Homo sapiens: one gene and its partners. The protein of the gene in region 2 purifies or fractionates together with the protein of the main gene of each other region. This does not show direct contact. Each region holds a gene or a part of one and is shown on either strand. Other genes may lie near its edges. The genes, in order: KAT14, ZNF608 and KANSL3.

Region 1 (3,651 bases), on a different chromosome or scaffold from region 2:
TAGGTACCAGGGTTGGGACTTCAACATATGCTTAAGGGGGACACAATTCAGTCCACAACAATGACCCAGAATGACTATTTAGCTTATCTTCTCCAGGAAACTTCATCTAATAGTGGCAATTTACTTACACAGCTAGATTTATGCTTGCTACTCAGTATTTTTTTAAACGAAAAGTATATCATTTAGAGACATACACATTTAAAAAGCAAAAGAATAATTAACACTGTAAGTCAAAGTGGCTTCCTCTGAGGGGAACAGAAAGTACACAGGAGACTTCTAAGGTGTTTACAACACTCTTTATCCAGGAGATGAATACATGGGCATTTATTTTACTAATATCTAAATTATACCATATTTCTATGCTGCCTTCTATCTGTATGACACATCTTACAATTTAAAAAATTAAGTATAGGCAGTAAACAGACAGGCCCACAAGAATAAGAACAAAGAACAGGTGAATATTGGCCAGGCGCAATGGCTCATGCCTGTAATCCCAGCACTTTGGGAGGCTGAGGCGATCACTCGAGCCCAGGAGTTTGAGATCAGTCTGGGCAAGATAGTAGGACCCTGTCTCTACTAAAAATAAAAATTAAAAAAAAAATTAGCTGAGTGTGGTAGTGTGTGCCTATAGTACCAGCTACTTGGGAAGCTGAGGTGGGAGAATTGCTTGAGCCTGAGAGTTCGGGGCTGCAATGAGCTGTGGTTGTGCCACTACATTCCAACCTGCGTGACAGAGAGAGACCATGTCTCAAAAAAAAAAAAAAAAAGAACAAGAACAAGTGAATAGATGACTAACAAAAGCATATGAACAAGCAGCAAATGACTTAACAGACCAAAGAAAGCCAATACCTAAGCCAGTGGTGAAGCTAAGCAGGGTGATTTACAAAACACAGCCTCAGGGAAGTGTAGTCACCTAAGGCATCAGGCTTAGAGCCTGGGGGGTATGACTATGGATTGTGAGGCTCTTTAAGAGGTTAAAGGCTCCAATTATACCCCTATAGTAATTATACTGCCCACATCTAGGAAATGATCTTTCCCTCCACGGGCAGAAGACTGGAGAGGCTCAAGAGGGAGATTCTGGACACAGGAAGCCAAGGGTGGGAGTACTGTACTGAAGACAGGGAGAGTCAGTTTACCTCCTAAACGATGGGCTCCTGGGCCCTCCCGACTTGGCTCCTGGTAGGCAGGCCAGTTAATACTGTGCTTCCCAGGAAAGATGGGAATTAGGAAAAAAAAGAAAAGAGGATCTATCTGGAGTAGGGATCTTGGTAAACTATAGCCCCCAGGCTAAATCCAGTCCACTGCCCATTTTAGTAGATAAAGTTTTACTGGAACACAGCCACACTCATTCACTACGGCTCTCCAATCACAACAGCAGAGTTGAAGAGTTCCGAATGAGATTTTGTGGCCGGCAAAGCCTAAAATAATTACTATCTGGCAGAAATACTTATTTCTTTACAGATAAAGTTTGCCAACTTTTAATCTACAGGGTCCAATATCCAAATAATGGGGAGTTCTAAAATGAGAGAACAGAAAAAATAGAAGATAGGAAATCAAGACTTTTCCATACTCAGGAAAGAAAGTTTCAAATTGAAAGGGCCCACACACCACATGTCCAGCACAAGGAAAGACATAAGCCCTACATACGGCACATCACTGAATAATACCAGAACACCAGCAATGAAGAGCAGATCCCACTAGCTTCCAGAGAAGAGAGAAAAACATGCAGACTCCAAACAGGCAATTCACAAAGAAACAACCAGGAAATTTAACCTCACCTGTAACCAAAGAAATATAAATAAAAAACAAGATTTCACTTTACAGCCAGCCAATTAGCAAAACTTAAAGGCTGGTTAGTGTCAAGTGCTAGCAAAGATAAAGGGAATAAGGCCTCTTGTTCCTCCCAGTGGGAGAGTATATACAGGTAGTTCTAAGTGGAATTAATTGTTCCCAGAAGCATCCACAAAATTTGGGTTCCACCGACCATCCTTTGAGCAACACTGATACCACACTGATCCCTTGGCTGCTATTTCTTCATGTTGTCCTTCGCAGATGTCTACACACCTTCAGATCCTCTGCAACACAGTGTCAGAGACACCGTCATGGCCTCAACAAATTTGTCAAAGCTACGACACAAACCATGCATATCTATCCTCAGAGAGAGAGAGACAAGAGAGACAGATGAAGAAAACTTATAGGTTATGTTTGAATGCCTAAAGGAAAAGAAAAACTCAGATGTATTCAGGTGTACTTACAATGAACAATTCTGAAAAATAAAGCCCAGCGATTTTTGTATTTTTTTCCCTTGCACTTTACTTTTCTCTTCCCAAATTACTCAGGATTTAAAAGGTCACAGCATAACCATGTCCAATGCCTAGTGCTGCCTGCCCCACCTCCACTCCTGCCCCCAAGGGCTTTACAGCAAGTGCTTGCATTCACCTGGTATCGGTCAAGGATTCTGAAGTCCTGACAGGTGGTTCTGTACGTGGCTTGTCCAGCTGGAAGTCTGGAAATTCCTCCTTCTTTGGCTCCATAAATCCCGTCAACTAACAAAAGAGCAGCATTAACAACTTGATCCAAGTCAAAAAGTGGTAATCCCCTATCCCTTTTCGCTTGTCTGACAATCAGTTTGCGTTTCAGTCTCCGAGCTTCCGGAGTCATGGCAACAGCACCGGGACAAGCTTCCAGCCTCTTGAGCAGCAGCTTTTCCTCGTAGATGCTCACGGGAGTATACCTGGGCTCTTTCGGCTTTGTGTCCTTCTCCAGCTGAGGCTTCCTCTTTTCTCTAGCCCTTGTTTGCAAAGATGTGTTTGAATCTGTGTCTTCACTGTCAATATCCATCCTGTCGGGTTTTTCCTCCTCACTCTCTACCTCCTGCTTTATCTGTTCAGGGCCTCTGACCTTCTTTCTGACCCCAACCACTGGCCCAGAAGCTACTGACCCAGCAGGGGGTGGGACGTACTCCATCCCTGGGTCTATGACTCCATCGCCTTCCATCTCATCGTCATCTGTGCAGAGTACAAAACAGTGTCATCAAGACATAGGAAGGAAGAAATGCAGAGCACACAGCCCACGGGGTGAAAACTTGTACATTTATACCATGGCCCATACCCAAAATAAAAGAGCAAAGCAAACAAACTCTTACCATGAAACAAGGCTTGTGGGGGCATCACATCTGGAATCAGATCTGCTTCTGAAAGCAAGCTAGGTGTGGCAGAATGAGAGGCAGGTGTACCAGGGGCAGAGAAATCCAGAGAAGGAGAAGGAGATGGGCTTGTCAGCGGGGTGCGGTCAGAGGAGCTCAAGGAGGAAAAGTCAATCACTTCGCCTTTTTCCAGAATCACATCTGGCCTGCGGCCTCGGCTTATGAATTTTACAGGGGTAGAAGATGTGCTCCTGTCAAGAAAGCCAGCGGCCTCCTTCTGGGCTCTTCTAATGTCTTTTGCTTCCTGAGTTCGAGACCTTTTCTCTTTTAATTCCATGGCAGATTCCACAGGATTCCGACTTGCTCGTTTTCTAAGTCCCTCAACAGTAATGATGGGATCTAAAGTTGGTTTTGAGGCTGCTAAGAAAGAATAAATACAGGCTGAGTATCCCTCATCTGAAATGCTTGGGCACAAGCATGTTTTGGATTTCAGATGTTTTCGGCTT
Region 2 (3,651 bases):
ATTATCTAAGCATGGGGGTGAGGGTGGGAGTGGGGATGTGCAGTGCTGGGAAATAACCAGGATTAATGCTCACGGGGTTGCAGTGGGTCAGGATGTCTGAACCATGACAGAAGGTGCTAGTACATTTGTGGTTTCGTGGTGACCAATTTTCAGGTGTTCTCAAGCTGACTGACCCATGGGGCTCTGGGACAGCTGTTGAGGCCTGCCACCCAAACCTCCTCACCCTCCTCACAAACATTCAGCACTGAGCTCTGAGTTTTGGGGTACTTAATATAGGGAGTAAGACTGAAATCTAGGCATCTCTGACCCCATGTGAAAGAAATTTGGGCCCCAAATTCTATTAAAAAGATTAATGGGAAATGTGAATTCAGGGACCCAGTTTTTATTATCTTCAAAGAAGATGCTAGTAGAAATTTGAAAATGGAAAATAAATATTTCAGAGATAAGACTCAGAATCTCAGAGTTAGAAGAGAATTCAGCAGCCCCATTGTGGAAAGCCCTCGCCTTGGACTAAGAAATTAAGGGATCCTGGCCAGGCGCGGTGGCTCACGCCTGTAATCCCAGCACTTTGGGAGGCCAGGGTGGGCGGATCATGAGGTCAGGAGATCGAGACCATCTCGCTAACACGGTGAAACCCCATCTCTACTAAAAATACAAAAAATTAGCCGGGCATGGTGGCACGTGCCTGTAGTCCCAGCTACTCAGGAGGCTGACGCAGGAGAATCGCTTGAACGGAGGCGGAGGTTGCAGAGAGCCAAGATTGCACCACTGCACTCCAGCCTGGGTGACAGAGAGAGATTCCGTCTCAAAAAATTTAAAAAATTTAAAAAAAGAAATTAATGGACCTCATCAGAGTCACAGAGCAAGTTAGTGGCATGAAACACAAATCTGCAAAGCACCCATCCACAGTTCCTTTTACTATACACCATGACAAGAAAATACTGATAATGTACATTTTAGAGCTACATAGTAACTCCTGAGAATCTTAAGATATTTTTCAAGAGCAGAGGAAAAAACTAATATGGGTTTCTTTCCTGTGTCAGAAGTCTAACCAGATCAAGCCCAGACATGTATAATACAAGTCTCAGACTGCTCTCTCCCTGTTGGGGCCACGCTCCACAATCTTACTTGTTTAAATCTCGAGGTTGGGTCTACACCTGTCTGCTTCATAGAGTCCATGACAGACTTCATTTCTACAGCCTCCTTAATAAGCTGGTGGTTTTCCATCTGCTTAGCTTTGAAGCTGTCGGCCTGAAGCTGCTGCTGGTGATTGGAGAGAAGCTGCGATTTACCTGTCTCCTCAGTTTTATTAGGCACTGATGGCCCTAGTTTAGAATGGTTTTTGTTAGGCTCCGGAGTAGAGGGAGCTTTTGAGATTGTGGCCGATGGCATATTTTTCTGTTTAGTTTCCTCCTTGCCCAGCTCTTTCAAGGGGAGCTCACTTTTCCTTTCACAGTCTCCTCTCCCAGTCTGGGCCATTTTCTGCTCTGCCAGCCTCTGGTCCTCATAGTACTTCTCATACTGCTGTCTATAGGCAGGGCTGGTGGCCATCAGAGACTTCTGGTCCATATAGAGCCCATATGCATACTGGCCATAATAAAGTGACTGAGCCAGGGCAGGATGTCTTTGTGTGATCACCGACTGGTGCTGAGGCTGTAAGGATGCAGAATTGTGGTCCACTTTCTTAGAATCTAACTGCTCTGCCTTGTCTTTCTTTTCAGCATCTTCCTCAGACTCCTTCTTGATCTTCATTCCCTGCGTGCTCCCACTATTTCCAGCTGCAGGGGCACCGACCTGCCCAGGGTGCATGTAACTTGGAGAATAATAAGGATCATAGCTGTGGTAATAGGGAGAATGGGACTCTTTCAGTTGAGATGATTGTGCTGTAGTTGAAGAATGCCCTTTTACAACACTGTCCTTACTAGAAATAATATCTGATGGGGAACTGGCCTTTGATCTCATACCCTCCGACCTGCTGTCAGAACCACCATCGTCAGCAGCATCAGATATGTCTGAATAGGCCGGGCTGCTTGTCTTTGCAGCTGAACTCTCTGCCCCATTCTGGGTCAACACATGCAGAGGTGCCATTGGTGCCTGCCCGTTCACCAAAGTGCTGCATTCCAGCCTCGAGGCGCTCCCTATGGAAGGGCTGGGAGCGTTGTCTGTGAAAGTGTAAACCTTATCGGCCTCAGCTTTGATACTGGCCATGCGGCTCTCCTGAGACTCCGACAGTCCATTTGCCAGCCCTTCATTCTTGTTGAGATGATCCTTTAAAAAATGCCCAGGTAAATCTTTGCTGGCCCCCTTGGAGTCCTCTAGTTTCCCCAGCTTGGCATCCATTTTTGGGCTTCCCGTCTCTTTCCCTTCTTTGTCCTTTAGCTTTCGCTTCTCCTTTTTCTTTTTGTCTTTGAGTGACACCAGAGCTGGGTTCACGGTGATGGGCTCTCCCATAATTGTGGGCTTTGGTTGAATGGGTTTTAACGGAGGACTCTTTGGTGTAGCCTGAACAACAGTTGTTGTGAGGGAGGGCAGTCCGGGTATTGTCCCAGTGGTGGTCGTTGTAAAGGTTGCAGTGGGTATAGCGATTAGCTGCGGGGGAGTGGGGGCTGGGGCAGGGGCAATGGGCCGGGCACTTTTCAGTTTAGAGAGGTTTTTGTCCGTTTTGCAGTTGGTAGCTTTTTTGCCCTTTTCTTTATCTCCTAAATTTTTCTTGTCAATTAATCCTTCTGCTTCCAGTTTAGGCATCTCAGCAGCCAAACTGCCGTCTGCTGCCGAGCAACTGTCTAACGCAGCCGTCATGTTGGAGATTACTGGAAGGTTGTTCAGTTCATTGTTAAGGCCCTTCTTTTTGCCAGAATTCTTCCCAGCTTTAGCACCAATAATGGAACCTGGGCCATTGCTCATCAGCTCTCTCTTTCCCTTTGGGGTCCCAGGTGGGTTTCCAGCACCAGGGGATGCCGGTGCCTTCAACTGGTCATAAGCAGATACACTTGTGCTTGGCTCACTGCATTCAAGTGCCACATTACTCAATCCTTCCTCACAGTCCGAGATCTTGTCCTCACTGTCAGGCTCGAACTCCAGCTTGTTTTCTGGGTCTAAGTGTGCATGAGCCTGGTGGTACCTCAGGCCGTTAATGTGCTTGTACTTTTTGTTGCAGTTTGGGTGGGGACAGTCGATTAACACTGGAGAAGAGCAGCCTTGGTCCAAAAAAGTAGTCTCTGGTTTCCCTTGAGGGGTAGTGGGAGTGCTTCTGGAATTTGTGCGGACACGCTTTCCAGGCTTATTGTCCTCAGAGCTGGAGTTCAGGTCCAGCTCCATTGGAGGCTTGTTTTTCCTTTTGTTGGTGGAGGAAGGGCTGGCTTTGATATCCTCAGCAGCACAATTTGGGGGTGTCCTTCGTCCGCTGGCATTGAGGCTGCCCCGCCTCCCTTTCCCATTGGCCCCCCCTCTGTTCTTATTCTGCAGCCCTCTGGACTCTGTGAAGCTGGCCTCGGAGCCCGGGGCAGCAGCAGCAGACCTCGCTCTCTTCCCTCTGCCCCGGCCCCCTCTCATCTCCAGGTCACTTGTCGGTGACTCACAAAACCTATGGAAGCAAGTAACAGATGTGAAAATGAGCATCCCCAAAAGAGCCAGGTGAAATCACAAAGTACA
Region 3 (3,651 bases), on a different chromosome or scaffold from region 2:
CATTTTTTCAATGAGTCTATATAAAAAATGATAAACATCTATTTTTTTTTTAAGATAAATATGGGCCAGGTGCACTGGCTCACACCTGTAATACCACCACTTTGGGAAGCCGAGGCAGGTGGATTGCTTGAACTCAGGAGTTCAAGACCAGCCTGGGCAACATGAGGAAACCCTGTCTCTACCAAAAATACAAAAATTAGCTGGGCATGTGGCACACACCTGTGATCCCAGCTACTAAGGAGGCTAAGGTGGGAGGACTGCTGGAACCCGGGAAGTCAAGGCTGCAGTGAGCCATGATTGCATCACTGCACTCCAGCCTGGGTGACAGAGCAAGACCTGGTCTCAAAAATAAATAAATAAATGACAAATACAGCCAGACACAGTGATTCACACCTGTAATCCCAGCACTTGGGAGGCTGAAGCAGGAGGATCACTTAAGCCCAGGAGTGAGCTGGTCTCAAAAAATAAATAAATAAATGACAAATATAGCCAGGCACAGTGATTCATACTTGTAATCCCAGTACTTTGGAAGGCTGAAGGAGGATTGTTTAAGCCCAGAAGTTCAAGACCAGTTTGGCAATATGGCAAAACCCCGTCTCTAAAACAAACACAAAAATTAGCCAGGCATGGTGGTATGCGCCTGCAGTCCCAGAAACTGAAGTGGGAGGATGGCTTGCTTGAGCCCAGGAGGTTGAGGCTACAGTCAGCTCTGATCATGCCACTGCACTCCAGTCTGGGTGACACGGCAAGACCCAGTCTCAAAAAAAAGGACAATATATTCCATAAGCAAGTTGATTTGGCTCAAGCTAATATTTTTAAAAGATCACTTTCAATTTTTGTTTAGTAGGCTACAGCTCAGGAGTGGAATTTAGAAGACCAGCTAGGCAGCCACTGCAGTTGACTGAGATGGGCCAGAAATCATGAGAGCTCGTTTAGGGACAAGAACAGTACAAATGGAGAAAAGTGGCTAACAAGTTGATTGCCTAGATACTGTTCAATACAGTAGGTATAAGCCACACACGACTACTTAAATTGAGGCAGGTGGATCACGAGGTCAGATCGAGACTATCCTGGCTAACATGGAGAAACCCCGTCTCTACTAAAAATACAAAAATTTAGCCAGCCATGGTAGCAGGCATCTGTAGTCCCAGCTACTCAGGACACTGAGGAAGGAGAACGGTGTGAACCCAGGAGGCGGAGCTTGCAGTGAGCCGAGATTGCGCCACTGCACTCCAGACTGGGAGACAGAGCGAGACTCCATCTCAAAAAAAAAAAAAAAAAAAAAATTACTGGGCACAAGGGCTCACAAGGGCTCAGGCTTGTAATCCCAGCACTTTGGGAGGCCAAGGTGGGCAGAACACTTGAGCCCACAAGTTCAACAGTGTGGGCAACATGGTGAAACCCCGTCTCTACTGAAAATACAGAAATTAGCTTGTGGTCCCAGCTACATGGGAGGCTGAGGTGGGAGATCAACTGAGCCTGGGAGGCGGACGTTGCAGTGAGCCAAAATTGCACCACTGTACTTCAGTCTGGGTGACAGAGACCTCGGCCCAAAAAAAAAAAATTTAAATAGAATTAAATATTCAGGCTGGGCGTAGTGGCTCGCGCCTGTAAACCCAACATTTTGGGAGGCCAAGGCGGGTGGATCACCTTAGGTCACGAGTTCGAGACCAGCTTGGCCAACATGGTAAAACCCCATCTCTACTTAAAAAAAACAAAAATTAGGGTGTGGTGGCACGTGCCTGTAGTCCCAGCTACTCAGGAGGCTGAGGCAGGAGAATGGCGTGAACCCGGGAGACGGAGGTTGCAGTGAGCCGAGATCACACCACTGCACCCCAGCCTGGGCAACAGAGCGAGACTCTGTCTCAAAAAAAAAAAAAAAGGCCGGACATGGTGGCTCATGCCGGTAATCCCAGCACTCTGGGAGGCAGAGGCATGCGGATTGCCTGAGCTCAGGAGTTTGCAACCAGCCTGGGCAACATGGTGAAACCTCGTCTCTACTAAACACAAAAAATTAGCTGGGTGTGGCAGCGTGCACCTATAGTCCCAGCTACTTGGGAGACTGCAGCAGGAGAATTGCTTGAATCCGGGAGGCGGAGGTTACCATGAGCCAAGATTGCACCACTGCACTCCAGCCTGGGTGACAGAGCAAGACTCCGTCTCAAAAAAATAAAAAAATAAAAAATTCAGTTCCGTAGTGACGTTAGCCACATTTCAAGCATTCAACAGATACACGTGGCGGCAGTTACCACACTGGACATCCCAGGTATAGAACATTCCTATTATTACAGAGAGTTCTGTTAAACAGTGCTGGTCTAGAGTTTTAAATTCATACAAACTTTCCCTTTCATTAGCAAGTCAACTGGTAGTTATTTAATATATACTGTAAAGTCTATGATTTCCTTTCTGTATGATTATCTAAGACAGATGACCTGGAATGCACATACCTTAGCTACTTAGCTCATTTTGTACAGAGCCTAGAACAGAAACAAATATAAATGAACATCTAAAGGTCTTTCATATTTTAAAATGAGATCTAGCTGGGCATAGTGGCTCACGCCTGTAATCCCAGCACTTTGGGAGGCCGAGGCAGGTGGATTGCTTAAAGTCATGAGTTCAAGACGAGCCTGACCAACATGGTGAAACTCCGTCTCTACTAAAAATATTAGCCAGGCATGGTGGCGGGTGCCTATAATCCCAGCTACTTGGGAGGCTGAGGCAGGAGAATTGCTTGAACCCAGGAGGCAGAGGTTGCAGTGAGCCAAGATTGCGCCATTGCGCTCCAGCCTGGGCAACAGAGACTCCGTCTCAAAAAAAAAAAAAAAGAAAGTAAGAAACAAATCCTAGTGCCCCAAGGGTCCTTCCCCACTTTATGATACATTGCACCAACTTTGTCACCCCAAATACTATGCCAAACAAACTGGTCTAGTGGCTACCTGCCAAACTTTATGTTAACTTTTTGACTTCAGTGACCTTACTGCATCCATTTCCAATGACTGAAATAATTACATCATTATGAAATGAAATGAAATCATGTGCAGCTAGATTTGGTGGTGGGCAAAAGAGCTGATTATCTTCTCCAGGCCAGACATTGAGCTAGTACTTGGATATGTGTAGCTAAAAGAGAACTCTTGATTTCACCATCACAAACCTATCCTCCTCCAGTCTTCCCTAACTCATGGCACCACCCAACTGCTCAAGCCAGAAATCTGTCATCCTAATTTTACCTTTCCCTTTAACCCTGGTTCTTGCTCTTCCTTCCAATTCACCATAGCAGATCCTATTAACCTATTCACTCTACCTATGAAATACATCTCAAAGTCATCTATATTTCTCCATTTGTACTGTTCCTGCCCTATACAAGATATCACGATTTCTGGCCCATCTCAGTCCATTGCAGTGGCAGCCTGCAGCTGGTCTTGTAAGTTCTACTCCTGCACTATAATATACTCAACAAAAAATCCAAAATGATCTTTTTAAAGTATAAATTGAATCTCTAGTTTAAGATCCTTCAGTGACTTCTTACCACTCTTAGAATCAAATTCCTTCACGAGGTAACCCTTGCCAACTTCTCCCTACCTCCCACTTATACCCCTACTGCTATTATATTCTGGCCACACTGGCCTAAAAGAGTTCTTACAGCATGCCAAA

The links.
Region 1: the proteins of ZNF608 (region 2) and KAT14 purify together in Homo sapiens (affinity purification with mass spectrometry, with the first as the bait; one large-scale study listed by BioGRID). This does not show direct contact.
Region 3: the proteins of ZNF608 (region 2) and KANSL3 purify together in Homo sapiens (affinity purification with mass spectrometry, with the first as the bait; one large-scale study listed by BioGRID). This does not show direct contact.

Annotation. Positions count from the first base shown.
Region 1 is NC_000020.11:18,161,734-18,165,384, reverse strand, and holds part of KAT14 (cysteine-rich protein 2-binding protein), read right to left. Parts: intron 3,566-3,651; coding exon of another isoform or gene 3,563-3,565; coding exon 3,146-3,562; intron 3,009-3,145; coding exon 2,440-3,008; intron 1-2,439. UniProt on the Homo sapiens protein: Component of the ATAC complex, a complex with histone acetyltransferase activity on histones H3 and H4. May function as a scaffold for the ATAC complex to promote ATAC complex stability. Has also weak histone acetyltransferase activity toward histone H4.
Region 2 is NC_000005.10:124,645,551-124,649,201, forward strand, and holds part of ZNF608 (zinc finger protein 608), read right to left. Parts: intron 3,584-3,651; coding exon 1,129-3,583; intron 1-1,128. UniProt on the Homo sapiens protein: Transcription factor, which represses ZNF609 transcription.
Region 3 is NC_000002.12:96,631,702-96,635,352, forward strand, and holds part of KANSL3 (KAT8 regulatory NSL complex subunit 3), read right to left. Parts: intron 1-3,651. UniProt on the Homo sapiens protein: Non-catalytic component of the NSL histone acetyltransferase complex, a multiprotein complex that mediates histone H4 acetylation at 'Lys-5'- and 'Lys-8' (H4K5ac and H4K8ac) at transcription start sites and promotes transcription initiation.